5 separate regions of the Homo sapiens genome follow, and regions 1, 2, 3 and 5 are each linked to region 4. The links come from fine-mapping of genetic effects on gene expression. A gene starts in region 4. Each other region holds a variant in brackets. All regions are shown on one strand. Distances are between the middles of the regions.

Region 1 (6,172 bases), 74 kb before region 4:
CTAGATGCATAAATTTTTTTCTGAGACTGGCAGACCACTAAGGGTCACCTTGCCAGCCTGTGTACCAGTTAATTAATCCTTACCCAAGAGACTTTTTCTTCCAAGACTTTTTCCTCCAAGACTGTCCTAATAGTTTATTAATTTTTTTTTTTTTTTTTTTTTTTTTTTTTTTTTTTTTTTTTAGACAGAATCTTGCTCTGTTGCTCAGGCTGCAGTGCAATGGCACAATCTCGGCTTACTGCAACCTCTGCCTCCCAGATTCAAGCAATTCTCCTGCCTCAGCCTCCTGAGGAGCTGGGACTACAGGCGTGCCCACCATGCCCAACTAATTTTTGTATTTTTTCTAGAGAAGGGGTTTTTTGCCATGTTGGCCAGACTGGTCTGGAACTCCTGACCTCAGGTGTTCCACCTGCCTCGGCCTTCCAAAGTGCTGTAATTGCAGGCATGAGCCACCACACCTGGCCCCTAATGGCTTTGAAAGGGTTGACTCATGCCCGCCTTTATAGAAAGTAGATTTTGCTCTCAAGAAACATTTAGGGCCAGGCGCAGTGGCTCATGCATGTAATTTGGGAGGCTGAGGCAGTAGGATCCACTAAGGCTGGGAGATCAGGACTGGCCTGGGCTATATAGTGAGACCCTGTCTCTACAAAATACAAAAAAACAAAAAATTAGCCGGGTGTGCTGGCATGTGCCTGTAGTCCCAGCTGCTGGGGAGGCTGTGGCAAGAGGATCACTTGAGCCCAGGAGGCTGAGGCTACAGTGAACTATGATTGCACCACTGCACTCTTGCTGGGGTGACAGAGCAAGACCCTGTCTAAAAATATGTATATATTTTACACTAGTTCCTTATTAATTTTTAAAATATGATTTTCTGCAGAATCCTGGCAATGTCTTTTTTTAAATCTATGGACATGAACACATAACATTCTCACTGATTCTCTTAACATAATTAATTGTATTAATGGATTTCCAAGTGTTGACTCTCACTTGCATTTCTGGCACAAAAGGCAGTGGATTATGATGTAATGTTTCAATGTGCTGACACAATGGCTTCTAATATTTAAAAGTTTACATTTATATTCACACGTCCTATACTTTTGTAATACATGGCTCAAACCAGGGTAAGATCTCATATCACCTTTATGCACCCTTCCTGAAAACTATTGGGAAGATTGACTAAGACTTGAATAGTTTAGGTAGCGTCAGGTTATCAGTTAGTTTACTAGTAGAATTTCTCTCTGGATCATATGAACTTGGTGCTTCTGTGTATATGAGGGACTCTGATAAATGTCTCTGTTTCTTTTATAAATATTATACAATTTAGAATCTCTATTTCTCTAGGGGTAAATGTTAATAAAATATATATTTATAGAATATATAACATCTACATTTGATTGTTAATTTACATTGGAATGCCCAACATTGTTCCCATTTATTTTTCATATCAGTATTTGACTTCAAGTTGCTGTTTGCACTGTAATCTGTTCACATATCCTTCTCAAGTTCCTCGCATGATCCCATTTCTCTGTTCACAGTGAAATAATAGTTTGGCTCAGGAATCTGAGGATTAACAGAAAATTGGGTTTTCTGTAGGGGACCATCTCAGGAAAGCACAGACTCTAGTAAGACGCGTGTGCTCTGCTGCTAGCCCCTCAGTCTAGACTCACCCCTTCCTGCTCCCTCCCTAGGAGCCCCTTCCTGTTGCCTCCAGGGATTATGGAAAGCAAGAGCCTCTGCCAAACACTCTCATCTTGCTAGAGATGCCCACTAGAATGTGGGGAAAAGAAAGCGAGATCAGACTGTTACTGTGTCTATGTAGAAAGAAGTAGACATAAGAGACTCCATTTTGTTCTGTACTAAGGAAAATTCTTCTGCCTTGAGATGCTGTTAATCTGTAACCCTAGCCCCAACCCTGTGCTCGCAGAGACATGTGCTGTGTTGACTCAAGGTTTAATGGATTTAGGATTATGCAAGATGTGCTTTGTTAAACAAGTGCTTGAAGGCAGTATGCTTGTTAAAAGTCATCACCACTCTCTAATCTCAAGTACCCGGGAACATAATATACTGCGAAGGCTGAAGGCCACAGGGACCTCTGCCTAGGAAAGCCAGGTATTGTCCAAGGTTTCTCCCCATGTGATAGCCTGAGATATGGCCTCATGGGAAGGGAAAGACCTGACCATCCCCCAGCCCGACACCGGTAAAGGGTCTGTGCTGAGGAGGATTAGTGAAAGAGGAAGGCCTCTCTGCAGTTGAGATAAGAGGAAAGCATCTGTCTCCTGCTTGTCCCCGGGCAATGGAATGTCTCGGTGTAAAACCCGATTGTATGTTCCACCTACTGAGATAGGAGAAAACCACCTTAGGGCTGGAGGTGAGACATGCTGGCAGCAATACTGCTCTTTAATGCACTGAGATGTTTGTGTATGTGCACATCAAAGCACAGCACCTTTTTTTAACCTTGTTTATGACACAGAGACCTTTGTTCATGTTTTCCTGCTGACCCTCTCCCCACTATTACCCTATTGTCCTGCCACATCCCCCTCTCCAAGATGGTAGAGGTAATGATCGATAAATACTGAGGGAACTCAGAGACTGGTGCCAGGGCGGGTCCTCCATATGCTGAGCGCCCGTCCCCTGGGCCCACTTTTCTTTCTCTATACTTTGTCTCTGTGTCTCTTTCTTTTCTCAGTTTCTCATTCCACCTGATGAGAAACACCCACAGGTGTGGAGGGGCTGGCCCCCTTCATAGAAAATTGTACTTGTTTTTGGTAATTGGTAACTGGGACAAAGTTTCTTGAAATATCTTTAGCTCCCCAAATATGCACTGTCATTGTTGCCGCAGGTGAAATGCTCATTGCAGTGCTGCAAAAAGGTGAGGTCACAGGACACAAACCCATATCTGAGACCTGGATGCCTTCCTCCACGCACTCACCCACTGGCTGTCCTGAGCATCACCCTGCACCTATTGTCACAGCAACAAGGGAAAAATCAGGTGAGTATTTTCTATTTCAGTCTAGAAGGCATAGCCTGCAAAGGAAGGAAGTGTGCTGGGAGATGGAGCAGGGTCTTTTGTCTGGAAAACGGAATTCTGGGCTAGAAACTAAGTCGGTGCCAACGCAATGCAGGGAAGGGGAAATCATCACTGGGTCGTGGGCTGCACTCGTGGAGAAGGAATGGAGGTCAAGACCATAAACCAGCCCCTAACTGCTTCTCATTTAATGTAATCCTCACTGTTCATCATTGTTGGTTTGAATAAAGTCATGAAATCTTTTTTTTTTTTTTTTTTTGAGACAGGGTCTCATTCTATTTCTCAGGCTGGAGTGAAGTGGTGCAATTGTGGCTCACTGCAGCCTCGAATACCTCAGCTCAAACGATCCTCCCACCTCAGCCTCCTGAGCAGCTGGGACCACAGGCATGTGCCACCACACTCAGCAAACTTAAAAAAAATTTTTGTAGAGACAAGCTCTCCCTATGTTGCTCAGGCTGGTCTCCTGGCCTCAAGCAATCCTCTTGCTTCAGCCTCCCAAAGTGTTGGGATTATAGGCGTGAGCCATCACATCCAGCCTATTTTTAAGTTCTCTAATATAATTTGGAAATTAATTTGCCCGCTGCCCTGTCTTATCTGCATGAACATTTCCAAGATTTGTAGAGGTGTTTCTATGACACCTCCATGCCTGTGATCATGTATAAGATGTAGCTGATTGAATTATCTTATTCTGTTCAGAAATAGTAAATATAGTGTTTTCAACAACTCTGTGCATAGAATATACCAAATGGAGACCATAAGTGTGTCATGACAGAAAAAATCTATTGTCTCTTTATTATGGTGAGACTCTTTTCCCTCATTAAATCAG[CAAAGA/C]AAAGTAACTGAATTTAGCTTTTTGTGTTAGAAAAAAACATTATGCTCCTCAGCAGTTTTCAGAATTGCATTATTTTTTATCTTTCCTCTTGTTTAAAAATGTTTTCATGTCATCCCCAGGCTCAGTGCTCATTTTGGGTCAATGTATAATCATTACCTCCAGTTTTTCTTGTGCATAATGGACTTGAGTTTTAATATAGTGAACTGTTCTGACATTGAAATACTATATTTGATATTTTCACATTCTCCAGTCCTCACTTTTTTTTTTCTACACTCATGGTAATTTAGTTTCTCCTCTGCAATGCTTTCCCTCCTACTCGTTTTCCTTCTCCCTTGCTTAGCACACGGTCATTCCATTATGCCCTCCTTCTTGGTTAAGATGGAAAAGAACCTCCTCTTTTAATTCCATTTGTGCATTTAAGAAATTCCATTTGGTTGTATATAATTATTCTTCTAAGATTATGCTAAGATCAGACTATCTATATTTTACTTGGATCTCTGATCACTATAGATGATATTTGCCTATAAAACAAGTATTGGTGTTTTCAATCACAATCAAAAAGAAAAAACTCAAAACGATTCTTTTAAAAACTCACAAGAGGTACAAAAATATTTTTTAAATACATGGATTGTCTTAAAAATTATTTCTCTCTGTTGCTACGACAGCATAGTGGTCAAGTCCATTGTCAGCTTCTGACACTGCCTCTTACAAGGAGGTGACTTTGGAAATGTCATTCAGCCTTCCTGTGCCTGAGATCGCCTCACCTGTCAAATGGGAACAATAAAGCACTTCAAAGAATTGTTGTAAAAGTTCTATGTAAAACACTATTATAGTACTCTTATGCTAGGAATATATATCTATACACACATATATTTTTATAGTGAAACTCTCAGGAAGAGGAAAATGAAGTTTAATAGGAAATTAATGGCTTGAAAACAATGGTAAGTGGGAAAGAGTGGCTTTCAGTTGCCATGGTACGACAGGCCTCTTGTTTCCATGCCAGATCCTCTCACTCTGAATAGGATGATCAGTCATTGAAAAAAGACAAATGGCCTCCAGGGATGTGGCAATAGGAATATGATCTTCTTATCTCAGACCACAGTAGGATTCCTGGGCAATTGCTTTCTTCATCACCATTATAGTTATTTATTTCACCAGATGCACATTAAGGTCCACAGATCTGATTCTGCAGCACCTGACTGTAGCCAACTCCTTGGTCATTCTCTCTAAAAAATGCTCCATATCCTTGTCAATGCTTGGTATTGGAAATCCTTTTAATTTAAGTCATTCTGGTGGTAGTTTTGGTATCTCATTATAATTTCAATGTCCATGATACAGCTATTTTTTTTTTTTGAGACAGAGTCTGACTCTGTTGCCCAGGCTGGAGTGCAGTGGTGCCATCTCACTCACTGCAACCTCTGCCTCCCAGGTTCAAGTGATTCCTGTGCCTCAGCCTCCTTAGTAGCTTGGATTATAGGTGTGCACCACCAAGCCCAGGTAATTTTTGTATTTTTAGTAGAGATGGGGTTTTGTCATGTTGCCCAGGCTGGTCTCCAACTCCTGGCCTCAAGGGATCCACCCACCTCGACCTCCCAAAGTGTTGGGATTACAGGTATGAGCCACTGCACCCAGTCATGACATAGCTATTAATATAGAACTTTTCATGTGGGCCTATAGGTCAATCTAGGAATTCGCCCTTTCAGAGGCTATTCATATTTATATGCATATTGGTGCATGGCAGGGGTTGGTGTATACACCTTGGTGTATGGCTGAGCCATAACTGGAGCATACCTGAGAATTACCCTATTCTAAGTGTGTTTGGAGTCCCAGGCTAAGGAATCCGGGAGTAGCCAACACTGAGATTCACTACTTATCTATGAAGGACAGCCATATCCCTGCCCCATCCCTTGGAACACAGGCTGTACAGGTGATCGAGGCCCTTTGTTTTGGGTTAAATGGAGATTGCTAGAAGGAGGGTTCTAAGTGAAAATGCTATATGCTATATGGACTACATGCTTTTTTTTTTTTAATACGAACGGTAGTATTTCTCCAGGCCAGCCCACCACCACTGGACCACCCCTGTATATAACTCCTGAAAAAACCTTGTTTCCTTCACTGGTTCTGCCTCTCTTACAGTGCCATCCCAATCGGAATCAATGGGGATCCGGAAGGACAATTGGCCATTTAGATAACATTTGAAAATTAACCAATGTAATTGGTTACATTGTAACATTATTATTAAAATATTATTTTAAAATTATTATTATATAACAGTAACATATTATTATTAAAAATACATATGAACATTTCAATAA
Region 2 (6,172 bases), 68 kb before region 4:
AAATACAATAGCCTTAGAATAAGCCAAAGCAATCTTGGGAGAATAAAGTCACAGGACTTCAAGACTTATTATAAAGCTACATGAATTAACACAGTTTGATAGTGGTATAAAGTTAGAAAAAGACCACTCCCTCCAGCTCCCCATTCTGCCCCCATCCCTGGAAGGCGCTGGCAGCTTTCCCCATCCGATCTGCATGGGTCAAAGGGCGCTGACGGAGGGCCTGACCGACCGGGATGGGAAACAAAGCGGCCCTGAGATCACTTTCGGTCTAGGAAGCCCACTAAGAAGAAAGCCTGGGCTGTGGAGTTATGAGGAAGGGAATGAATAGTACACGGGGGCCAGGCGCGTCTCCCCAGGAACCAGAAGGCCTTTAGCTCTATTAGTTCAGAACGACTTCCAGCGAGTCCCAGCCCTTTTCCATTCCCAGCGCAACGATCGCCGGAATCCAGGCGCCATCCAGGCCCCTCTGTTCCCTGAAAAGACCACGCAGCCTCCAGTGACATCACGGAGACGAAAGGGCTTGGCCACCTGTGGCAGCCATGATAAAACCTAGGGAAAACGGAGCTCGAAGTAGCTTATTTTATTTATTTTTTATTTATTTATTTATTTATTAAGGAGTCTTGCTCTGTCGCCCAGGCTGTGGTGCAGTGGCGCGATCTCGGCTCACTGCAACCTCTGCCTCCCAGGTTCAAGCGATTCTCCTGCCTCAGCCTCCCCAGTAGCTGGGATTACAGGCGCCCACCATCACGCCCGGCTAATTTTTGTATTTTTCGTAGACGGGGTTTCAGCATCTTGGCGAGGCTGGTCTTGAACTCCTGACTTCGTGATCCACCCGTCTCGGACTCCCAAAGTGCTGGGATTACAGGCGTGAGCCACGGCGCCCGGCCTGGAGCTTGTGTTACTAAAAGACATGCAAACGCCCTTAACCGCTAAGCTCCTGAGGGGTAACGGTATGCTACAAAAGTGCTTCTGAGCTACTACTCCTGGAGGCTTGGTCCGAGTGACCGCAGCAGTGGGCGCGGTGGAAGAGAAGGAGAACGTGTTGGCCCGGGCCTCCATAACCATGGCTGCTAGGGGCGGGGACTGGGAGCGCGGGTCCCGGGACTGGGAGCGCGGGTCCCAGGCCAGGGTGCGGGCTGGGAAGACTCGGTCCTCCACTGCCCCAGCAGGCCACGCGCCCGCGCGTAGCCTCCCGCCCCGCTAGCAGCACGCTGCGTGGCTGCTCGTTGGCTACTTACGACGGAAGCTCGGTTGGGGTTTCTGCAGAAGTTTCCCCCTTGGGCGGTGGCGGAGCTGATAAGCGCGCTAGTAGCAGCTCTGGCAGAAGCAACGGTGGCTTCGAGGGATGGCGGCGGCTGCAACAGGACCTGCAGCATCCCAGAGGTGCGTGTTTTTCCTTCCCTTTGCTATTTATTTTATCCCCTTTCCTTGGCTAGTGGGTCCTGCTGAAGTCGTTGTTTTCCTGAGAGGTTTTTTCCAGAGCTTCTCAGATGCTCTAATCCACTGCGGCGTTAGAGGTGAGAGAGCCTTTTCTGCTTCCTCCACCCCTGGCTGACGCGCCTCCTCCCAGCAGCACCTGATTGGGACCCAGGGTCCTGTGGTTACTGCGTGTCCGCCCCAGTATTGAGATTCTCAGTCTCCTCGCGTTACCTCAGACTCCTGTCTTGCCCTTTCCATTTCCAGACTCTTGCATTCCTGCACTTCTGAGAAAAACCTCCTCCATTTATTGGGAACATGGTTGACAACTGTAGTTGGGCTGAAAGGATTTTTTTTTTTTAATGGCAGTTATGACTAGAAGAGAAAAGTGGACTCTGGGCTCGATGAAAATTAATTTTTTCGTTTGACATCATTGTTGCCATTCTTATGTAAAAGTGCCGGTATGAAGTCAGTCTACTGGAACAAAAACCTTTTCCCTCACGTCCCTGAAACTTTCCAGATGTCTTGTCATAGTTCATTATTCACTCATTTGTTTATTCATCAAAAAATGTTTTAGGAGTTGCTGTGTGCAAAGGCGCTGATTGCTATGGGTTAGTCTTAGTTATATACTTAGCTAACCAAGAAATCACTTCTTGCAGGTGTGCAGTGAAGACAAACTATAAAGCTGTAAAGGAATGTAAAAGAGCAAGAGTTAAATAATAGGAGTTAAAGAAGAGCCTAAAGATAAATGATGCTGTGGGTCACAGAATTTAACCAGGAGGTTTTTGTTTTTCATTTTGTTTGTTTGTTTTTTGCTTTAAAGCACATAAAAAAGGACACCCTGTTTTGTTGTTATAATCTAACATAAGTAACGTTAACAATTTGAGGCAAGACGGCGTCTTTTCTAGCTATGGCTTTTATAAGAAATGTGCCATAGGGTGCTGGAGCCTCTGTTAAGGTGATATTTGAGCAGAGACCTGAAGAAGCAAGAGAATTCGCTTAGAAGTTCTGGGGAAAGAGCATTCCAGGCAGGACCAAGAGCCAGTGCAGAGATCCTGAAGTAGGCATGAAGTTGGCCTGTGTATGGAGCAGCAAAAAGGCCCTTTTTATTAGAGGGCCCATTTGATTAGGAGATAAGGTTGGACAGGAAACTCGGAGCCACGTCCTGTATGGCCTTTTAGGGCCCAGGTATGTTTTTTGAATCTAAATATATAGACCTTTAGATACCAGCAATAAGGCTTCTGGGATCAGTTTTGGGATAATGTTACAGGAAGCAGTGAAAATTTTTCTCTGTAATTTCTTATATTAGATAGCTATTACTTTGAATTTACATTTCTTAATTGTCATGTTAGGGCTAGTGCATCCTTTGGAAATCCAGTTTGTATAAAAGTTGCTTTTAGGCTCAACGCGGTGGCTAATGTCTGTAATCCCAGCACTTTGGGAGGCCAAGGAGGGTGGATCCCTTGAGGTTAGGAGTTTGAGACCAACCTGGCCAACATGGTGAAACCCTGTTTGTACTAAAAATACAAAACAAACTTTAGCGGGGTGTGGTGGTGTGGATCTGTTGTCCCAGCTACTCAGGAGGCTGAGGCAGGAGAATTGCTTTAACCTGGGAAGCAGAGTTTGCAGTGAGCTGAGATTGTGCCACTGCACT[C/T]CAGCCTGGGTGACAGAGTGAGACTCTGTCTTAAAAAAAAAAAAAGTTGCTTTTAAAGAATATTAATATAATAAACTTCATTGTCACTTTCTATCTTCTTTTACTTATTAATTTTTTTTTTTGAGTCGGAGTTTCACTCTGTCATCCAGGCTGGAGTGCAATGGCATGATCTCGGCTCACTGCAACCTCCGCCTCCCACGTTCAAGCGATTCTCCTGCCTCAGCCTCCCAAGTAGCTGGGATTACAGGCGCACACCACCACACCCGGCTAATTTTTGTACTTTTTAGTAGAGATGGGGTTTTGCCATGTTGGCCAGGCTGGTCTCAAACTCCTGATCTAAGGTGATCTGCCTACCTCGGCCTCCCAAAGTGCTGGGTTTATAGGTGTGACCATGCCCGGCCTTAAATTTTTTATTGAGGCATATATGACATACGTAAATAACACAAATTTTAAGTCTACAGTTTGATGAGTTTTTAGATACGTGTACACCACCCAGATCAAGATATAGAGCATTTCCATTCATAAGGTTCCTTCATGCTCCTTCCCAGCCAGCAGTTCTTCTTACTGTCCTGCTGACTACTGTTTTGACCTCCATCACCATCTGTTCGTTTTGCTTGTTCTGGACTCATAAACAGAATCATATAGTAGGTGCTTTGTTCAATGTACGCAGTCTGTTTTTGCTTTAATCATTCCATGAGTATACATCCATATTGTGTGAAGCAGTAGTTCTTTTGCATTGCTGTGTAGTATTCCATTGTATAATTGTATAAATATATGTTGTATAAATGTAAGTATAGCACAATTTATTCTAATTGGACGTCTGGTTTATTTCTAGTTGTTAGCTAGCATAAATAAAGTTTCTGTGAGTACTCTTTTGTGTATTTTGGTGAACACATGCATTTCTTTCTTTTGATTGTATATACCTAGGAGTAGAACTGGATAGAATAGTCATGTGGTTAGCACTGGTACCTTGGTTTTTAATGTGTGGCTCTTGGGCCAGCAGTAACAGCATGACGTGGCAATTCACTAGAAGTGCAGATTCTTATTGAAAGTCCTTATGGGCCTGGCACGGTGGCTCACACCTGTAATCCCAGCAGTTTGGGAGGCTGAGGCGGGTGGATCACCTGAGGTCAGGAGTTTGAGACCAGCCTGGCCAACATAGTGAAACCCCGTCTTTATTAAAAATACAAAAAATTAGCTGGGCCATGGTGGCAGGCGCCTGTAACCCCAGCTACTTGGGAGGCTGAGGCAGGAGAATCACTTGAACCCAGGAGGTGGAGGTTGTAGTGAGCCGAAATTGTACCATTGCACTCCAGCCTTGGTGAGAGAGCAAGATCCCATCTCAAAAAAAAAAAAAAAAAAAAGTCCTTATGACTCATGTAGTCCAGTACTTCTTACTCTTCCTTTTCCCAGTGTACATAAGAAAGCAGACCTTGCTAAGCGTGGTGGCTCATGCCTATAATCCTACCACTTTGGGAGGCTGAGGTGGAAGGATCACTTGAGACCAGGAGTTCGAGACCAGGAGTTCAAGACCAGCCTAGGCAACATAAAGAAACCCCGTTTCTTAAAAAGTAAACAGAGATTCAAATAAATCCAAATGATCTGTCATAGAGACACACCAGTTACAGGCAGAAGGGGGGGGCCTTAGGACACAGGTTTTCCAAATTTTAGTCTAGTGCTATAGAACAGTGGTCCTCAAAGGTGTGGGCTCCAGATAAGCTGCAGCATCAACATATTAGAAATGCAAATTATTTATTTATTTGAGATGGAGTCTTGCTCTGTCGCCTAGGCTGGAATGCAGTGGTGCAATCTCAGCTCACTGCAGCCTCTGCCTCCCAGGTTCAAGTGAGTCTGCCGCTGCCTCCCAATTAGCTGGGATTACAGGCGTGTGTCACCACACCCAGCTGATTTTTGTATTTTTAGCAGAGATGGGGTTTCACCATGTTGGCCGGGCTGGTCTCGAACTCCTGGCCTTAAATGTTCCACTCGCCTCAGCCTCCCAAAGTGCTAGGATTACAGTGTGAGCCACCATGCCTGGCCCTAGAAATGCAAATTCTCAGGACCCACCACAGACCCAGAATCAGAAACCCTGGGTGTGGGGAGGATGATCATGATAAGAACCAGCTGTGTTAAGAAGAAATGTTCTTTTTAAACTGTGAGATGACCTCACAAAGATGAACAGGTCAATGTAAATTATTAAATAATTGGTAATGATAAGTAGGGCCGAAACTTTGATGATGAATGTGAGTGTATTTCTCCTGGATTGTCCCAAGGGCTACTTTAACAGGCATTTGGGATTCAGGTCACTTGGTATCATGTGAGTTAAAATGTGTATATTTGATATAAGGTCATCCAATTAGGAATAAAGGGGAATGTTCTTATCACATAGGCTGTTTCACATTTTTCATTCATTCAACAAAGAATGAACATTAAGTGGTGAATGTTGTACTGGAAATCAGGAATCTAAGGATGGATAAGCTTCAGTGAGTGAGTTTTCAGTCTAGTGGAAAGACAAGTCAACAGATCATTAAAATATAAGGTAACTACTGTAATGGGGTTGTGTATAAAATGAGCGTAGCAGAATAGAATCCGACTGAGGGAGTTAAAAACTTTACAGAGGAGGTTGCAAAATTCAGTAGGGAGAGAAAACGTGTGAATTTTGAGAATCGTTCAGGGCCCAGTGTGTGTGGTGGTTAAGAACCCAGGCTCTGGAGTCAGAGACTCTTGGGTCAAAGTTCTGGTTTCATGATAACGGTGTAACTTCAGTAAGGTTCCTGTCATCAGTCCAGAGCAGATTTCTCATCTGTCAAATGGGAACAAATAGGACCTACTTGAAAGGTTTATTTTGAAGATAAGTGAGGTACCCTGTATCATATGCTTAGTACAGTGCCAGGCACATGGTAAATACTACATAACTGTTCTGTTTGGGGAATAATACAAGTTGTTCAGTAGTATTAGCACATAAAATGTGAGGAGGCAAGTGCTAGGAGATAAAGGTTAAACAAGTGGAGAGAGGCCAGGCCATCAAAGGCATTAAATCTCAACAGATGGTTTTCAGTTTTATCATATGATCATGGAGACCTGTGAAGAATTTGGAGGAAG
Region 3 (6,172 bases), 98 kb before region 4:
GAAATGAACAAAGCCTCCAAGGAATATGGGACTATGTGAAAGACCAAATCTATGTCTGATTGGCGTACCTGAAAGTGACGGGGAGAATGGAACCAAGCTGGAAAACACTCTGCAGGATATTATCCAGGAGAACTTCCCCAAACTAGCAAGGCAGGCCAATATTCAGACTCAGGAAATACAGAGAACGCCACAAAGATACTCCTCGAGAAGAGCAACTCAAGACACATAATTGTCAGATTCACCAAAGTTGAAATGAAAGAAAAAATGTTAAGGGCAGCCAGAGAGAAAGGTCGGGTTACCCACAAAGGGAAGCCCATCAGACTAACAGCGGATCTCTTGGCAGAAACTCTACAAGCCAGAAGAGAGTGGGGGCCAATATTCAACATTCTTAAAGAAAAGAATTTTCAACCCAGAATTTCATATCCAGCCAAACTAAGCTTCATAAGTGAAGGAGAAATAAAATACTTTACAGACAAGCAAATGCTGAGAGATTTTGTCATCACCAGGCCTGCCCTAAAAGAGCTCCTGAAGGAAGCACTAAACATGGAAAGGAACAACCAGTACCAGCCACTGCAAAATCATGCCAAATTGTAAAGACCATTGAGGCTAGGAAGAAACTGCATCAACTAACGAGCAAAATAACCAGCTAACATCATAATGACAGGATCAAATTCACACATAACAATATTAACTTTAAATGTAAATGGACTAAACGCTCCAATTAAAAGACACAGACTGGCAAATTGGATAAAGAGTCAAGACCCATCAGTGTGCTGTATTCAGGAAACCCATGTCACATGCAGAGACACACATAGGCTCAAAATAAAAGGATGGAGGAAGATCTACCAAGCAAATGGAAAACAAAAAAAGGCAGGGGTTGCAATCCTAGTCTCTGATAAAATAGACTTTAAACCAACAAAGATCAAAAGAGACAAAAAGGCCATTACATAATGGTAAACGGATCAATTCAACAAGAAGAGCTAACTATCCTAAATATACATGTACCCAATACAGAAGCACCCAGATTCATAAAGCAAGTCCTGAGTGACCTACGAACAGACTTAGACTCCCACACAATAATAATGGGAGATTTTAACGCCCCACTGTCAACATTAGACAGATCAACGAGACAGAAAGTTAACAAGGATACCCAGGAATTGAACTCAGCTCTGCACCAAGCGGACCTAATAGACATCTACAGAACTCTCCACCCCAAATCAACAGAATATACATTTTTTTCAGCACCACACCACACCTACTCCAAAATTGACCACATACTGGGAAGTAAAGCTCTCCTCAGGAAATGTAAAAGAACAGAAATTATAAAAAACTGTCTCTCAGACCACAGTGCAATCAAACTAGAACTCAGGATTAAGAAACTCACTCAAAACTGCTCAACTACATGGAAACTGAACAACCTGCTCCTGAATGACTACTGGGTACATAACGAAATGAAGGCAGAAATAAAGATGTTCTTTGAGACCAACGAGAACAAAGACACAACATACCAGAATCTCTGGGACACATTCAAAGCAGTGTGTAGAGGGAAATTTATAGCACTAAATGCCCACAAGAGAAAGCAGGAAAGATCCAAAATTGACATCCTAACATCACAATTAAAACAACTAGAAAAGCAAGAACAAACACATTCAAAAGCTGGCAGAAGGCAAGAAATAACTAAAATCAGAGCAGAACTGAAGGAAATAGAGACCAAAAAAACCCTTCAAAAAATTAATGAATCCAGGAGCTGGTTTTTTGAAAGGATCAACAAAATTGATAGACTGCTAGCAAGACTAATAAAGAAGAAAAGAGAGAAGAATCAAATAGACGCAATAAAAAATGATAAAGGGGATATCACCACTGATCCCACAGAAATACAAACTACCATCAGAGAATACTACAAACACCTCTACGCAAATAAACTAGAAAATCTAGAAGAAATGGATAAATTCCTCGACACATACACCCTCCCAAGACTAAACCAGTAAGAAGTTGAATCTCTGAATAGACCAATAACAGGATCTGAAATTGTGGCAATAATCAATAGCTTACCAACCAAAAAGAGTCCAGGACCAGATGGATTCACAGCCGAATTCTACCAGAGGTACAAGGAGGAACTGGTACCATTCCTTCTGAAACTATTCCAGTCAATAGAAAAAGAGGGAATCCTCCCTAACTCATTTTATGAGGCCAGCATCATCCTGATACCAAAGCCGGGCAGAGACACAACCAAAAAAGAGAATTTTAGACCAATATCGTTGATGAACATT[G/C]ATGCAAAAATCCTCAATAAAATACTGGCAAACCGAATCCAGCAGCACATCAAAAAGCTTATCCACCAAGATCAAGGGGGCTTCATCCCTGGGATGCAAGGCTGGTTCAATATACGCAAATCAATAAATGTAATCCAGCATATAAACAGAACCAAAGACAAAAACCACATGATTATCTCAATAGATGCAGAAAAGGCCTTTGACAAAATTCAACAACCCTTCATGCTAAAAACTCTCAATAAATAAGGTACTGATGGGACGTATCTCAAAATAATAAGAGCTATCTATGACAAACCCACAGCCAATATCATACTGAATGGGCAAAAACTGGAAGCATTCCCTTTGAAAACTGGCACAAGACAGGGATGCCCTCTCTCACCACTCCTATTCAACATAGTGTTGGAAGTTCTGGCCAGGGCAATTAGACAGGAGAAGGAAATAAAGGGTATTCAGTTAGGAAAAGAGGAAGTCAAATTGTCCCTGTTTGCAGAGGACATGATTGTATATCTAGAAAACCCCATTGTCTCAGCCCAAAATCTCCTTAAGCTGATAAGCAACTTCAGCAAAGTCTCAGGATACAAAATCAATGTACAAAAATCACAAGCATTCTTATACACCAATAACAGACAAACAGAGAGCCAAATCATGAGTGAACTCCCATTCACAATTGCTTCAAAGAGAATAAAATACCTAGGAATCCAACTTACAAGGGATGTGAAGGACCTCTTCAAGGAGAACTACAAACCACTGCTCAATGAAATAAAAGAGGATACAAACAAATGGAAGAACATTCCATGCTCATGGGTAGGAAGAATCAATATCGTGAAAATGGCCATACTGCCCAAGGTAATTTATAGATTCAATGCCATCCCCATTGAGCTACCAATGACTTTCTTCACAGAATTGGAAAAAACTATTTTAAAGTTCATATGGAACCAAAAAAGAGCCCGCATCACCAAGTCAATCCTAAGCCAAAAGAACAAAGCTGGAGGCATCACGCTACCTGACTTCAAACTATACTACAAGGCTACAGTAACCAAAACAGCATGGTACTGGTACCAAAACAGAGATATAGATCAATGGAACAGAACAGAGCCCTCAGAAATAACGCCGCATATCTACAACTGTCTGATCTTTGACAAACCTGAGAAAAACAAGCAATGGGGAAAGGATTCCCTATTTAATAAATGGTGCTGGGAAAACTGGCTAGCCATACGTAGAAAGCTGAAACTGGATCCCTTCCTTATACCTTCTACAAAAATCAATTCAAGATGGATTAAAGACTTAAATGTTAGACCTGAAACCATAAAAACCCTAGAAGAAAACCTAGGCATTACCATTCAGGACATAGGCATGGGCAAGGATTTCATGTCTAAAACACCAAAAGCAATGGCAACAAAAGACAAAATTGACAAATGGGATCTAATTAAACTAAAGAGCTTCTACACAGCAAAAGAAACTACCATCAGAGTGAACAGGCAACCTGCAAAATGGGAGAAAATTTTCGCAACCTACTCATCTGACAAAGGGCTAATATCCAGAATCTACAGTGAACTCAAACAAATTTACAAGAAAAAAACAAACAACCCCATCAAAAAGTGGGCGAAGGACATGAACAGACACTTCTCAAAAGAAGACATTTATGCAGCCAAAAAACACATGAAAAAATGCTCATCATCACTGGCCATCAGAGAAATGCAAATCAAAACCACAATGAGATATCATCTCACACCAGTTAGAATGGCAATCATTAAAAAGTCAGGAAACAACAGGTGCTGGAGAGGATGTGGAGAAATAGGAACACTTTTACACTGTTGGTGGGACGGTAAACTAGTTCAACCATTGTGGAAGTCAGTGTGGCGATTCCTCAGGGATCTAGAACTAGAAATACCATTTGATCCAGCCATCCCATTACTGGGTATATACCCAAAGGATTATAAATCATGCTGCTATAAAGACACATGCACACGTATGTTTATTGTGGCACTATTCACAATAGCAAAGACTTGGAACCAACCCAAATGTCCAACAATGATAGACTGGATTAAGAAAATGTGGCACATATACACCATGGAATACTATGCAGCCATAAAAATGATGAGTTCATGTCCTTTGTAGGGACATGGATGACATTGGAAATCATCATTCTCAGTAAACTATCGCAAGGGCAAAAAACCAAACACTGCATGTTCTCACTCATAGGTGGGAATTGAACAATGAGAACACACGGACACAGGAAGGGGAACATCACACACCAGGGCCTGTTGTGGGGTTGGGGGAGGGGGGAGGGATAGCATTAGGAGATATACTAATGCTAAATGACGAGTTAATGGGTGCAGTACACCAGCATGGCACATGTATACATATGTTAACTAACTTGCACATTGTGCACAAGTACCCTAAAACTTAAAGTATAATAATAATAAAATAAAATTCATTTTAATTCTATGTATTTAAATCAAATGCATTTCATGCTGAAAGAGTTGGCTACTATGTACCTTCATTAAAGACGTCCTGTTTAGTCTGTCACAGATGTCAATCAGGCATCTTCTCCCCAGCAAGAGAGTGACCACTTCCACATGGCCATGGGCACAGGCCAAATGTAGAACAGTCCTAAGTGAGCGAGAGGAGTTTTCAGGAAATGTAGTGCAGTATCTCAAAACCTACAATGGTTCATGTAATTGTATACATTGAATGGCATGTTATTCCTCTGCCTTCAAAACAAACAATTTTCTTTTGAAGAAAGTACAATATTTATTAGCTCTTACTGCTCCCTACCTTAATGAAACAGCAGCCTATTTGGATAGAATAAGCTTGGTGTTTGGATTCAGTTCAACTAGGGTTTGAGTTCCACTTTGAACTCAGTCACATACCAGCTATTGCTTAGCCTTTCTGTGCCTGAATTTCCTCATTAATAAAGATGACAAAGCAGCTAGCTCACAAGACACCAGTGTGATGCTTAAATGAGACTCTATGTAAAGCATTTAGAACCACTTCCAGAACAAGCAACAACTCAATAATTGTTAGATTTTTGTTTGTTGAGACAGTCTTGCTCTGTTGCCCAGGCTGGAGTGCAATGGTGTATTTATGCCTCACTGCAGCCTGGAACTCGCAGGCTCAAGCAATCCTCCTGCCCAGCCTCCTGAGTAGCTGGGACTACAGGAGTGCACCAGCATGATCAGCTAATTTTTAAAATTTTTTTGTAGAGTAGGAATGTCACTTTGTTGCCCAGGCTGGTCTCAAACTCCTAGCATGGTGGGAACTTCCCACCTCAGCTTTCCAAAGTTCTGGAATAACAGCTGTGAGCCACGCACTCAGCCAGATGTTATAATTATTACTATTACTACTCCTTAACAAAAACATTTTAATTAAGTAAAATGATACAATTATTGCTATTTTGCAGGATGATTTAAAGATTAGGTCACATTTCAGAGCATCTGATATTGGAATAGTATTTATAATTCATAATTTTTTATAACTATAATTGGTAGCATTTAAAAATCATCTTCTTAATATAGAAAATAGTAGGGTATCACACAATCCATGAGGCCTTACAGTAAGTAGAATACTGTATACACAGCAGGTCTAGGGCAGTTCTAGGCATCTAATTGACACTTAAATACATTTTAATTCCTAAAAGTACCATGGGGAAAGAGCACTGAAATAACAACATATTTTTTAAACAAATTACTTCTTACTCTGATTTTTAAAAATGTGAAGCTGTCCGGGTGCGGTGGCTCATGCCTGTAATCCCAGCACTTTGGGAGGCCAAGGTGGGTGGATCTGTAGGTCAGGAGTTCAAGACCAGCCTGGCCAACATGGTGAAACCCCGTCTCTACTAAAACTACAAAAATTAGCTGGGCGTGGTAGCAAGCACCTGTAATCCCAGCTACTCAGGAGGC
Region 4 (6,172 bases):
TAAAGATGAACATACACATATTCTATGACTCAGCAATTCCACTCTTAAATATACACCCAATAAAAATGCCTGCATATGTTCACCATACAAAAGAATGGTCAGAGCAGCATTATTATTGGTAGTCTCCAAATTGAAAAAATCCAAATGTGTATCAATAATAGGATGAATAAAATGGGGTATATATTTTTTAATAATAGGATACTATACAGAAATAAACCATAGACACATTAAAAATATATATATGGGCTTGGCCTGGTGGCTCATGCCTGTAATCCCAGCACTTCAGGAGGTTGAGGCGGAGGATTACTTGAATCTAGGAGTTCGAGGCCAGCGTGGGCCACATAGTGAGACTCTGTCTCAACAAAAAATAAAAATTAGCCAGGTATAGTGGTATATGCCTGTAGTTCTAGCTACTTGGGAGGCTGAAGTGGGAGGATTGTTTGAGCCCAGGAGTCTGAGGTTACAGTGTGAGCTATGATTGTGCCACTGCACTCCAGCCTGGGTGACAGAATGAGACCCCGTCTCAATAAAAAAAAAAAGTATACAACTTACAAACATAATGAAATAAGCCCAACATAAAAGAGTCCATTCTCTATGGTTCCATTTAAATAAAATTTTTAAAGAAGCAAAACCAATTCAGAAGTTAGAATATTTGTTATCCTGGGGGAAGAGAGGGCAGTGACATGAAAGGTACACAAAAGGGGCTTCTGAAGAGTTGGTAATGCTCTGTTTCTTATGGGTACTGCTTACTAGGCACGTTCCTTTCAGATAATTCATTGAGCTATTCACTTATGATTTCTATACTTTTAGATATGTACGCTATGCTTCAACATGCACATCCAATCAGTTGGTTAAATAACTTTTTTTCTGGCTAGTCACAGGTCAGATGGTTCAAGACTTGAATTACAGGGTCTAGATTCATATCCTAGATCTTCCTATCTTGGAGATCTTGGCCAAGTCACTGACTCTGAATTTCAGTTTCTTAATCAGTAAAATGGGTTACTTAAGGCACCCCTCTCATAGTCACTACAGGCATTAAATCTTCTCATTAAATATTTGCCTCTTGTGGTGGTCCTCATTGCTCTGCTTTGTCTGGACTATGCAGAAGACAGACAATAGCCTGGGATAGAGGAAGGAAAAGGATGGGGTCAAGAGACATTTTCAAAGTTAAGAGTGAGAGGGAAAAGATCAAAGATGATGCTGAGCTACAAGAAAAAGATCCAGAGGCCCTGGTGTCATTCTTTCCGTTCCCTATCTCTGGCTTTTTGCCCGTATCTAAACACAGGAGGTGGACTAACCAGATGATCTCTAACTGGTTAGTCTTTCGCTATGATATTATCAGGTTGGGAGGAGAATGGAAATGCCATCCAAAAGGCAAACACGAATTTCCACGTTTGATGCAAACTCAAACACAGTCTCAAAAACTTGGAAGTTAAGGGAGGTAAATTCTCAGTGCTGGGATTATGGGTTATTTTTACTTTCTCCATTGAAGTTTTTCATTTTTTTTTAATTTTTGACAATAAATATGGAGTTTAATCAAAACAAAATCCCATACTTCACATGTCCATGCCTGCTATTTATAGCCATATAATTTTTAAAAAGAAAGAAACCCCTAAATTACAGATGTGCCTGGAACCAGAACCCAGAAAGCATCTGGGTAGGGAAAATAGTTTCTAGTGTTCAAGGCCAAAGCCAGTAGGGCCTCCTTGGATGGGAAAGAGATATGAGACTGCAAGTAATTCCTGGACATTACCTATTTGTTATTGTGTTTTCATCCCTTCCCTCAGTCACCTACACGTTTTCTTTTTCCAGCTAAAATGAATCTAATCTTTGTTACAGTACTTCACCTTGTTAATAAAACCCAGGACTGAAGAATGAGAATAAAAGGGTTTTATACTCACCATTTCTTAATTTCTGATTCTAGTCTGGACAGAACAATCACTCATTCTAGAAAATTGGCATAGGGAGCATTTATTAGCAGTTGTAACATATCACTGCCAAAGGGAGGGATTCTGTAAGGCGGCACTGGGTGTCTCATATGTATGGGAAACCCGAGGCCACGTTCAGTGCCAACCACAAGCATTTTCATCTCTGGCCAGGCAAGCCTTGATCCCTGAATTTTGAGCTCTCAACCTCTTTTAAAATGAGAAAGAGATGGTTTCTTCCAGAGTCTTTCAGCTTCTAACTTACAGGCAAACACTACCGTATGCTGTCCCCCAGCAGAGATTGGTTTTAACCAAGGCAAATAAGTTAGGATGGACTTTGTTGACCGTGATGGCTCAGTGCTACATCTCATATATCCTACCACCTTTCAGAACATTTAATAGTGCTGCTCCTGGCAGCCCTGGGGTTGTAGTCCTTGTAGAGAGGAGGAACTGGCATTGAAAGAAATAGTTGAGTTTCACTACGCCACGTGGGGCGCTCCCATTGCTAAGAGCAATCTCCCCTCCCTGGGAAGAAAAGCGTGGGCGGGGCCGGGGCAGTCCCTCCCCTCCGCGTTGCCTTGGAGACCATGGGCGTCCAGCTGCAGTTGTCGCTGGACCGGCCCTGGCTGCCTTGAGAGGTGCTTTCTGCAGGCGGGGACGCGGCCAGGCCGGACGCAAGGCCTCCCTCCAATCTACCGGGCTCAGGGGGACGGCCAGGGGCTGCTCAGTCTACTTGGCGGGCTAGGGAGGGGGATGGCAGAGGCTGGTTGGGTCTTCTCAGCACACAGTAGGCGCCTAATTAGCGTGACCTGAATCAGGTTACTCTCTCCCTCCAATTCTCCTCCCTGTGTCCCATGGAGGGTGGATTAGGGTCCCGGATGCGAATTCTGCGCCGCATTAGAGTTCCAGTCCCAACCGACACCTTGAGCGCCGTTAACTTTTCCCCGAAGAGCATGGCAGAGTGAAGCACAAGCAATAATCCTGTATTATTCGCGTTCCCAGAGTCCCTTCGGATTTGCGCCATGCGCGGCGGGGAGAACCGGCCTCCTGCTCGAGTTCAGAGCTCATCTGAGGTTAGTTTCATCGTTTCGTTGAAAGTTAAAACCCTAAGTCGACGTTCCCCAGCCGCCTACCCCCCAGCAGAGAGTCCTTCCCCGGGGAGTCCTGCCCTGGGGTGCCGCCTCGAGGCCAGACGTCGTCCCGCCTGGACCTGAACCTGAGTTTGGGACGGGCGATTTCCCAACCTCAGGAATTGGAATTGAGACACCAAAGCCTAGACGCGTTTCCTGGACGACGGCTTCCCGGCAGGGGCATCCAGCCAGCGGCCAAGATGTCGTCAGTGGGGAAGGTGACCCAGGTTCCGAATGGGAAAGCCTACCAGCAGATCTTCCAGGCTGAGGTAGGAGCCGCCCTCTGTCCCGCTTTTCTCCATCCCCCTTCCCTTGCTTTCTTCCAAACTTCCCTCCCTCCCAGGGCTTCCCTACTGGAAATTGAATAAAACAAGGGCTTTGAAATTACTTTGATTTTAAAAATAATTCTTGCTTGTTCTTAAATCGTACCAATACAAAATTAGAATGTCAGTTCTTGAAAATTAGAAAACTTAAATTAAAATTTTAAATGTAAATTACTCAGAAATAGCCTGGATGGAACCACTGGGTGACCTCTGTTTTTCCCATGCATAAAAACATGACTAATTTTTGTATTTAAAAAATAGGTTTCATTCTGTACTAGTGTTTTGAAATCTGCTTTTTCTTCATAACAGTATCTCACAGACCCTTTTCTATGCCCGTGGGCGCCCATGTATTTCACCATACTGAGCAGCTCCCCACTTGTTGACCTAGGACTCCCATAACTGTATTAAAGTAAAGCCCTCTTGACAACAGTGTAGGTTGTTGAAATTGCCTTGTTCTCTCTAAAGCACTGTATAGACAAAACAAGATCTTAAAAGAAACACACAGACCCAAATTCTTCCTTTGAAGTTCTGTACTGCTTATTTAAAAGGGATTTGCATTCCTAATTTAAGCCTTAAATAATTATCTGTAAAACCTCTGGAAATTATAAAAGTATAAAGAAGCCAAAACAACAATTACATCACTCACATGATCCTGCTCTCTCTAAGGCCATTCTTAACTCATGGCATACTTCCCCCAGGGCCTTTTCCTATGCGTTTTAAATTTTGAGATCATACGGTATAGTTTTGGTTATAATTTCTAATTTCTAATTTCTATAATTCTATAATTTCTAATGCATGTAAGTGATATATTTAACCATATATCATCTCCTAAGCATTTCCTCAGGTTATAAAAAATTATTTGTGGGTCTCATCTTTAACAAATGCCTAACATTCCATCAAACAGACATACCATGTTTACTCAGCCAATCCCTATTATTAGTCAGTTCTGTTTTTCCAATTTCTTGTGATTATAAAAAAGGCTGAGATGTTCATCTTGATCTTCATTTAAGGTTCTTAGAAAGAGGCCTTCTTTGAAGTGGCTGAGTGACTGTTACTGGGAGGAGAGCTCTCCTATAGGGATATGACCTGGGGCTGAAGGCCTCCTGAAAAGTACCTTCCTGGGGGCAGCTCTCTGGATGTCTTTCTAGACAGCCACCATCAGCCTGAGAGTGCTAGGAAGTCAGCAGCTCTGACCACTCCCCCATCCTTGGTCCTCCCTGGATTCAGGTGCAGCTGGTCCACTCCCTGGCGGCCACCAGGAAGCGGGCTGCAGAGCGTTCTGTGACCCTGAAGAGTGGCAGGATACCCATGATGAAGAAGGTGGAGACTCCTGAAGGGGAGGTGATGTCTCCCCGACAGCAGAAGTGGATGCACAGCCTCCCCAACGACTGGATCATGGAAAACCCTGTTCTCCACAGGTAGGTCCTGTTGTCCATGCCTCACCCCCATGCACTAGGGTACCTGAGCCTTCAAAAACTCAAAAAGAGCCAGCACAAGATGAGTAGCCTGTAGGAATGAAGTCTCAAGTACCACCCCTAAAGCAGGGAGGCTAATACCTACCTTGCAGGATGGTTTGCTTCTCTCGCCCCCATTCCCCCACTCCCACAGTCATTATTGATTAAGTGCCTAGGACCAGGCACTGGGTATGGGGATCCCACCCTTATGAAACTTGAGACCTCGAAAGTAAATAAATAAGCACATCCCCCCAATGGCAGAAAAGCTCTGATTAAGGGGATGGGGCTATGGGACAGGGGTCAGGAAAGCTCTCTGAGGAGGAGGATCAGCTGAAACCAGAGGGTGCAGTATGGGGACAAGGCTCTGAGAAAGGTGGTCTTGGCCCCCTCCTGAAGGCTGAAGGTAAATGGACCCTGAGAGAGGGCAGGAGATGAGGCTGGGAGCAGCCTTTCAGGCCACAGTCAGTATTTTGAACTTTACTGCAGTGAGCAGCTGATTTGCATTTTTGAAGTCCCTCAGGCAGCTCTGTGCAGAATGTGGGGGGCTTCAAGAAGAGGCAGGAAGGCCAGGGCACAGGACACTGCAGTTGTCCTTGTAACCTTGTTGGTGGCTGTGAGAGGGAAAGTAGCTGTGGGCCTCGGGTGTCTCTTGGAGGCAGAACCCATGAGACCTAGTGATGAATTGGAGGGGAGGAGAGAGCTCCTGAGAGCCCTTGGTCTCTGGCCTGAGTGCTGGGTGAACAGCAGAAATGTATTTTCCTCAGATGAGAGCAGGCGGGGGTCAGGCATGGAGATCAGGAGTTTCTTGTGAACTTCCAAATTCAGAAGTTCCTAAGCATGCCATTTCAGTTCGCTGAGCTCTGACTGTCAGCTATGGGGAAAAGGAAGAAACAGATCTTCCCAGGGTTCTTGAGAGAATGGAGCAGGCGCGGTGCTCCCCTTAGGCACTTTGAGTTCTACACAAGCCATAAACCCTTGCTGGGCCTGGGACTCTGAGATAGAAAGCAGGCCTCCGCTGCCTGTCTTGGTTGTTCCTTTCACCCTCTTTGGGGCAGGGACAGACCCCTTGCTGAGTATAGTTCTCTGCCCTGACCTGGCCTTTGAATTTTCCCAGGAAAGCCACCCCCAAAACTCCTGACCCTCATGCTCTGAACTCCCAACAGATAGAAAAATCCACTGGCCCACCCAAGCCCAGACTCGAGGTCAGTGTTCTCTAGCCCATATCACCCTGCCTGATGCCCCAGGTGGGCATCCAGGGTTACAGGCAGCCTGATGTCCCAGGTGGGAATCTAGAGGAACTACCCATAGGGCCCAGCTCCCTCTAGACACTCTGCAGGGCT
Region 5 (6,172 bases), 56 kb before region 4:
GCTTATTGTCAAATTTGCTTATCCCAGTTTCAGTTTTGGTATGTGAATAATAGGGCTATTCAGTCAGGAAGACAGCATATCTACACTCCTAGCAAATTCCAGAGTCAAGTTATCTAGTGCCTTGATACATACTTGAAAACCCTGAAAAAACGTGGGTCATACCATGCTCTACATTTTCTTTTTTTTTGAGACAAGGTCTCACTCTGTTGCCCAGGCTGGAATGCAGTGGTGTGATCTTGGGTCACTGCAGCCTCCGCCTCTTGAGCTTAAGTGATTCACCCACCCCAGCCCCCCAAGTCACTGGGGCTATAGGCACGTGCCACCACATCTCACTAAATTTTGCTTTTTTTTTCCGCAGAGACAGGGTTTCGCCCTGTTACAACAGCTGGTCTTGAACTCCTGGGCTAAAGCGATCCACCTGCCTCAGCCTCCCAAAGTGTTGGGGTTACAGGCGTGAGCCTTTATGCCTGACCTCATCCTCTACATTTCTAGGCCTTATTACTTTTAAGAGCAATAGAAAAGTTTCCTGCCTAAATTCCTTTCTTTTTTTTTTTCTTCTTTTTGGACCTGGGGGCACAGAGCCTTACTCTTTCACCCAAACTCGAGTGCAATGGCACCATCATAGTTCACTGCAGCCTTGAATTCCTGGGCTCAAGCTGTCCTTCTGCCTCTGCCTCCTGAGTAGCTGGGAATACAGGCATGTACCATCACACTAAGCTAATTCATTAAACATTTTTGTGTAGAGATGAGGTCTCGCTACATTGCCCAGACTGGTCTCTGAACTCCTGGCCTCAAGTGATCCTACTGCCTTGGCCTCCCAAAGCACTGGCATTACAGACATGAGCCACAGCACTTGGCCCCTAAATTCTTTTCTTGAGTTTTCTTTCCTTTCTTGAGTTTTCTTTCCTTCCTTTTTTCCTTTCTTTCTTTCTTTCTTTTTTTTTTTTTTTTTTTTTTTTTTTGAGACAGAGTCTCGCCCTGTCTCCCAGGCTGGAGTGCAATGGTGCATGGTGCATTCTCGGCTCACTGCAACCTCTGCCTCCCGGGTTCAAGTGATTCTCCTGCCTCAGCCTCCAGAGAAGCTGGGATTACAGGTGCGTGCCACCACGCCCAGTTAATTTTTTTATCTTTATTAGAGATGGGGGTTTCACCATGTCGGCCAGGCTGGTCTCAAACTCCTGACTTCGTGATCCACCCGCCTCAGCCTCCCAAAATGCTGGGATTACAGATGTGAGCCACCGCGCCCGGCCGAATAATATCTTAATATCATGCCATTGACATTTATTCTCTAATTACTTCAGAGGTGGCCTTCAGAAGAAGGCCTCTTTGGTAAAATTGCTATTGAGGATATTTCACTAAAAAACAAATTTATCTTTACATTTAAATCCAGGAAAAATTTAAGTTAAACTTTTAGGCTTCTATTTTTATCAGACAGGGTAAAAAATTTATAACTCAGAATATTACCTTTTCCCCTCTTTGTATGTTAGACTGCCTGATTTTAGTTACTGATTATTTAAAATAATAAGTTATTCAAACCCTCTTCTCTAGAATATAGTGTATGTGAGACAGTATATTTAAAATTTTTATTAAGGCCCATGTAGTTGTATTTCTTTTATAAATTAGTAAATTAGAAAATTTTGTTTTAAGAGATTTTTAATTTAAAATTTCCAGATTACTCTTGGCTGGAGTTAACTTGAATTAGTAGGCTTTTATTTAGAGTACTCTCGATGTTTTTAACGTATTTCACTATGCACTGTGTATAGATGTAATCGTTGTTCTGTGTCTCCAGAAGTGAATAATTTGTTTACGCCTACATTTACACTATTATCTGTAAGTATATAATTTATCACCTGTAGCCTCTTGACCCCCATGTAACTTGGATATATGAGAAAACTTCACAGAATTTAAAGATGCTTCTTGGTGTTGGTAGGAAAGGGATGGGAACAGATAAAGCCACTGAGAGAATAGTGGACTGAATAGGTAGCTGCATTGAAGAGTGAGCTGGGGCTGGGAAAGGCTTAAGGACCTCAACTCAGCTCCCAGTTACCAAGCCTCCTCCCCACCCTAACTAATGGCATTTTGGGAGTCTGATTTAGATCTGACTTTGTTGTGTGTATGAGGAAGCTTCTCTAAGGGCAGAGGGATTGAGGGAAATGTGCATTATTTATATCTATGAAATTAGTGAGGTTTACTGTAGTTAAAATTAATTTAAAAAAATCAAAATGTTTCAGGATAAACAACCAAGTGTTAAACTATTGGTATGTTTATAGCTATAACAGAGTTTGCCATAAGTTCTGTTAAGACAGGTTTTATTCACTGCTGACTCCCCAGTGCCTAGAACAGTGCCTGGGATGTAATAGGTATTTAATAAGTATTTGCTGATTAACAGGTTGTGCAGATGAGTGATGTGATAGGTTTTTCTTTCTAGGTGCAGATGCTAATTTCAGTGACTGGATTAAAAGGTGTCGAAGCTCAGAATGGTATGTAGATCTCCCATGGTATTTCAATTTAAAAAGAAGTAAACATTTGAAATTTTTTGGTTTAAACAAATTTGTTTTTACCTTTATAATTTATTTTAAATAATACATGTTTCCTTAAATGTAGACTACCAAAAATATAATGTTTTTTGCCTAGCTTCTTAGGTTGAAAAGGAGATTTGGGTGAATTTGCTGGTATGACATATCAGTAAGAAATTACTAAGGAGTCTAGGCCGGGGCCCGGTGGCTCACTCCTGTAATCCCAGCATTTTGGGAGGCTTAGGCAGGCAGATCACGAGGTCAGGAGATTGAGACCATCCTGGGCAACATGGTGAAACCCCGTCTCTGCTAAGAAAATACAAAAATTAGCCGGGCGTGGTGGTGCGTGCCTGTAGCCCCAGGTACTCGGGAGGCTGAGGCAGGAGAATCACTTGAACCCAGGAGGCGGAGGTTGCAGTGAGCCAAGATCACACCACTGCACTCCAGCCC[G/A]GGCAACAGAACGAGACTCCGTCTCAAAAAAAGAAATTACTAAGGAGTCTAAAATGAATTCAGGAGGCAAAATGAACCCACTTTTCTTTAGTTGAAAGGTATGGAGAATTGGCTTGCTTAATCAGTATGTTTGTGCAATAAAAATCATATAAATACCTTTGCCTTTAAATGTACTGTTAACTGAAAATTCTTCCTTTTTATGTTTTAATAGGCTCGGAATCTGAGGTGGTAAGTCCAGAGTTTTCATTCTTCATGTTTTTATTTACTTAGGTTAAATTTCAAGTACCCAATATATTTGAGACAGGACTCAGGATGAGCTCTCTGTCAGCTAAATATTAAGCAATTCCATTTAAGTACTGGTTCCTCTAGGAACTGAAATAAAGCCATTTTTTCATAAATATGGAAGTTTCTAGTCATGAAATTTATTGGGCTATTTTAATGAATTTATCGTGTGGTTAAAATCGATTTCGTATGTTTTAGTATGGTCAAAATGATTATTTATCTGTTCCTTACTAAAACCTTATTACATTTATTTAGGTCCAACAGTTTGAATCACTTGTAGGGCTTTTTATGATAGGCTAAGACAAAAGTTAAGGAAAATTGGAAATGTTTATCTTTAATTCAGTGTAATGTTTATTGTTTTGGGCATGAAGACCTTCAAGTCTTTTCAGTTATTAAAAATTATGGTGGAATTGAATAAAAGTAACTTTTAATTTTATTTTTTTTAAAAGACAGTGTCTTGCTCTGTTACACAGGCTGGAGTGCAGTGGTGCCATCATAGCTCACTGCAGCCTGAAACTCCTGGGCTCAAGTAGTTTTCCTACCTCAGCCTCCCAAGTAGCTGGGACTACAGGTGCATGTCACCCCACCAAGCCCGCTAATATATTCTATTTCTTTAAAAAGCTTTTTAGGCTGAGTGCAGATTTTTATGCCTGTAATCCCAGCACTTTGGGAGGCTAAGGCATGTGGATCGGTTGAGGTCAGGAGTTCAAGACCAGCCTGACCAACATAGTGAAACCCTGTCTCTACTAAAAATACAAAAATGAGCCAGGTGTGGTGGTAGGCGCCTGTAATCCCAGCTACTCAGGAAGCTGAGGTGGGAGAACCCCTGGAGCCCAGGAGGTGGAGGTTGCGGTGACCCAAAATCATGCCACTGCACTGCAGTCTGGATGACAGAGTGAGACTCCGTCTAAAAAAAAAAAAAAAGGACAAACTACCATAAAGATGAATCTGCTTTTTTGTTTTGTTTTGTTTTTTAATTAAGCTAAATATTATGTTACTTCATTATGAGGGAACAATGAAAAATTACAGTTTAAGTTTTAGATTCCTTTATATTTTCAAAAAGAAATAAAGCTATACAATAGAATTAATATTCGGAGAATATTTAACTATCACTCAAAGCATGTAGATAATAACCAGGCGTGGTGGCTCACACCTGTAATACCACCACTTTTGGAGGCCGAGTTGGGCAGATCACCTGAGGTCAGGAGTTATACACCAGCCTGGCCAACATGGCGAAACCCTATCTCTACTAAAAATACAAAAATTAGCTGGTCGTGTTGGCATGCGCCTGTAATCCCGCTACTCTGGAGGCTGCAGCAGAAGAATCACTTGAGCCTGGGAGATGGAGGTTGCAGTGAGCTGAGATCACGCCACTGCACTCCAGCCTGGGTGGCAGAGTGAGACTCTGCCTCAGTTAAAAAAAAAATGTAGATAATAGTGTAATTTAGTAAGAAAAGTACTGAACTGAAAATCAAGAAATCTGACTCTGGATCTTTGCTAGCCCTGAGAATTTACTCTAGGCACAAAATGACTATGACTAAATTTTTAGTACCTTTGAAAGGAGGTCCGTGGACCAAATGAGCTCTGGAGTCCTTTCAGCTGTAAAATTATATGAAGGTATAATGATAAATGAGTTCAGGCGAATAAATGATATAGGTAGGCTTTTTCCATTACTACTCCTTTTTTATGTTTAATTAATTAATTAATTAATTTTTGAGACAGAGACTCTCTCTGTTGCCCCGGCTGGAGTGCAGTGGTACAACCCCAGCTCACCGCAACCTCCGCCTCCTGGGTTCAAGTGATTCTCCTGCCTCGGCCTTCTGAGTAGCTGGGACTACAGTTGCCTGCCACCATGCCCGGCTGATTTTTATATTTTTAACAGAGATGGGATTTCACCATTGTTGGCCAAGCTGGTCTCGAACTTCTGACCTTAAGTGATCTACCCGCCTTGGCCTCCCAAAGTGCTGGGATTGCAGGTGTGGGCCACAGTGCCTGGCCACTACTCCTTTTTTATACAAAGTTCTGCAGCATACTGTTACTATTTATTAAGTTGAAGTTCTAAGGACATGTGAAATTTCCTATCGTGGAATAGGATCAGGGTTGGCCTGTGTCATGAAGAATGGTAACTAGACCTGTAGAAAGGAGACAGGTTCAGAGGGTTGGAGAAGGAAGTGCAAAGTGAAGTAGTTTTTTTGCATCTAGCTAAAAAGGATCTGCCTATTTATTTATTTAAAGATTGTGAAGAACAGAGCTGGTTAATTATGAGGCAGATTTATGAAATAGCTGCTTGGGACAATAGAAAGTGAGAAAAGGGATGAAATCTTACCAAGTTTTTTTTTTGGAGACAGAGTTTCGCTCTTGTTGCCCAGGCTGGAGTGCAGCGGCATGATCTCAGATCACTGCAACCTCCACCTCCTGGGTTCAAGCAATTCTCCCGCCTCAGCCTCCTGAGTAGCTAGGGTTATAGGCACACGCCACCATGCCTGGCTAATTTTTGTATTTTTAGTAGAAACGGGGGTTTCACCATGTTGGCCAGCCTGGTCTCGAATTCCTGACCTCAGGTGATCCACCCACTTCAGCCTCCAAAAGTGCTGAGATTACAGACGTGAGCCACCATGCCCGGCCCTTATCAGGATTTTGGTCTGTTTCTGGTCATATCCACATGGTGTAGAATTTGTTTAATAAAATAATTTTGAGTAACCAAGCACAAAACTCTAGGTAGATTTGAAAGGGAGATATTTCCAAAAATTATGAATTTGATTTTTTTGGTGTATGTCTATCAAGAGATTGGTAATGCGTGTCCATTTGAAGTAATTTAAATTGAGTGTGAATAAATGATAATGAGCTTGCATTACTGAGCCATCTCATACACTGGTGGAAGAATAGCATGTGTGGTAAATACACAGATCTGTGTGGCTAGAGTT

The links. PIP is the estimated chance that this variant, and not a neighbour inherited with it, causes the effect.
Region 1: its variant is fine-mapped to the expression of CCDC180 in whole blood (TOPMed, PIP above 0.99).
Region 2: its variant is fine-mapped to the expression of CCDC180 in blood mononuclear cells (TOPMed, PIP above 0.99).
Region 3: its variant is fine-mapped to the expression of CCDC180 in whole blood (TOPMed, PIP above 0.99).
Region 5: its variant is fine-mapped to the expression of CCDC180 in whole blood (TOPMed, PIP above 0.99).

The regions. Positions count from the first base shown.
Region 1 is chr9:97,230,363-97,236,534 of GRCh38, forward strand. LOC124902224 (a long non-coding RNA gene) reads left to right here. Exons shown (of 3, transcript XR_007061684.1): 2 at 2,840-2,989; 3 at 4,523-4,655. It also overlaps the pseudogene ANKRD18CP and the pseudogene VN1R52P. Among named protein-coding and RNA genes, the nearest start is that of SUGT1P4-STRA6LP-CCDC180, 5.0 kb to the right of the region's middle. RefSeq lists an enhancer at 1,798-2,395. The variant CAAAGA/C (reference allele first, on the strand shown) is at 3,852.
Region 2 is chr9:97,237,185-97,243,356 of GRCh38, forward strand. It overlaps SUGT1P4-STRA6LP-CCDC180 (SUGT1P4-STRA6LP-CCDC180 readthrough), which reads left to right and starts at 1,242. Exons shown (of 45, transcript NR_036529.1): 1 at 1,242-1,383. It also overlaps the pseudogene ANKRD18CP, the pseudogene SUGT1P4 and the pseudogene SUGT1P4-STRA6LP. RefSeq lists enhancers at 650-1,475, 1,484-1,643 and a silencer at 1,403-1,697. The variant C/T (reference allele first, on the strand shown) is at 3,071.
Region 3 is chr9:97,206,605-97,212,776 of GRCh38, forward strand. It overlaps the pseudogene ANKRD18CP. Among named protein-coding and RNA genes, the nearest start is that of SUGT1P4-STRA6LP-CCDC180, 29 kb to the right of the region's middle. The variant G/C (reference allele first, on the strand shown) is at 2,271.
Region 4 is chr9:97,304,809-97,310,980 of GRCh38, forward strand. It overlaps CCDC180 (coiled-coil domain containing 180), which reads left to right and starts at 2,851. Exons shown (of 37, transcript NM_020893.6): 1 at 2,851-2,998; 2 at 3,175-3,324; 3 at 4,606-4,796. The coding sequence starts at 3,256. SUGT1P4-STRA6LP-CCDC180 (SUGT1P4-STRA6LP-CCDC180 readthrough) reads left to right here. Exons shown (of 45, transcript NR_036529.1): 13 at 2,928-2,998; 14 at 3,175-3,324; 15 at 4,606-4,796. RefSeq lists a silencer at 2,319-2,613 and enhancers at 2,319-2,613, 2,556-3,056.
Region 5 is chr9:97,248,364-97,254,535 of GRCh38, forward strand. It overlaps SUGT1P4-STRA6LP-CCDC180 (SUGT1P4-STRA6LP-CCDC180 readthrough), which reads left to right. Exons shown (of 45, transcript NR_036529.1): 3 at 2,429-2,480; 4 at 3,178-3,194. It also overlaps the pseudogene SUGT1P4 and the pseudogene SUGT1P4-STRA6LP. Among named protein-coding and RNA genes, the nearest start is that of SUGT1P4-STRA6LP-CCDC180, 13 kb to the left of the region's middle. The variant G/A (reference allele first, on the strand shown) is at 2,967.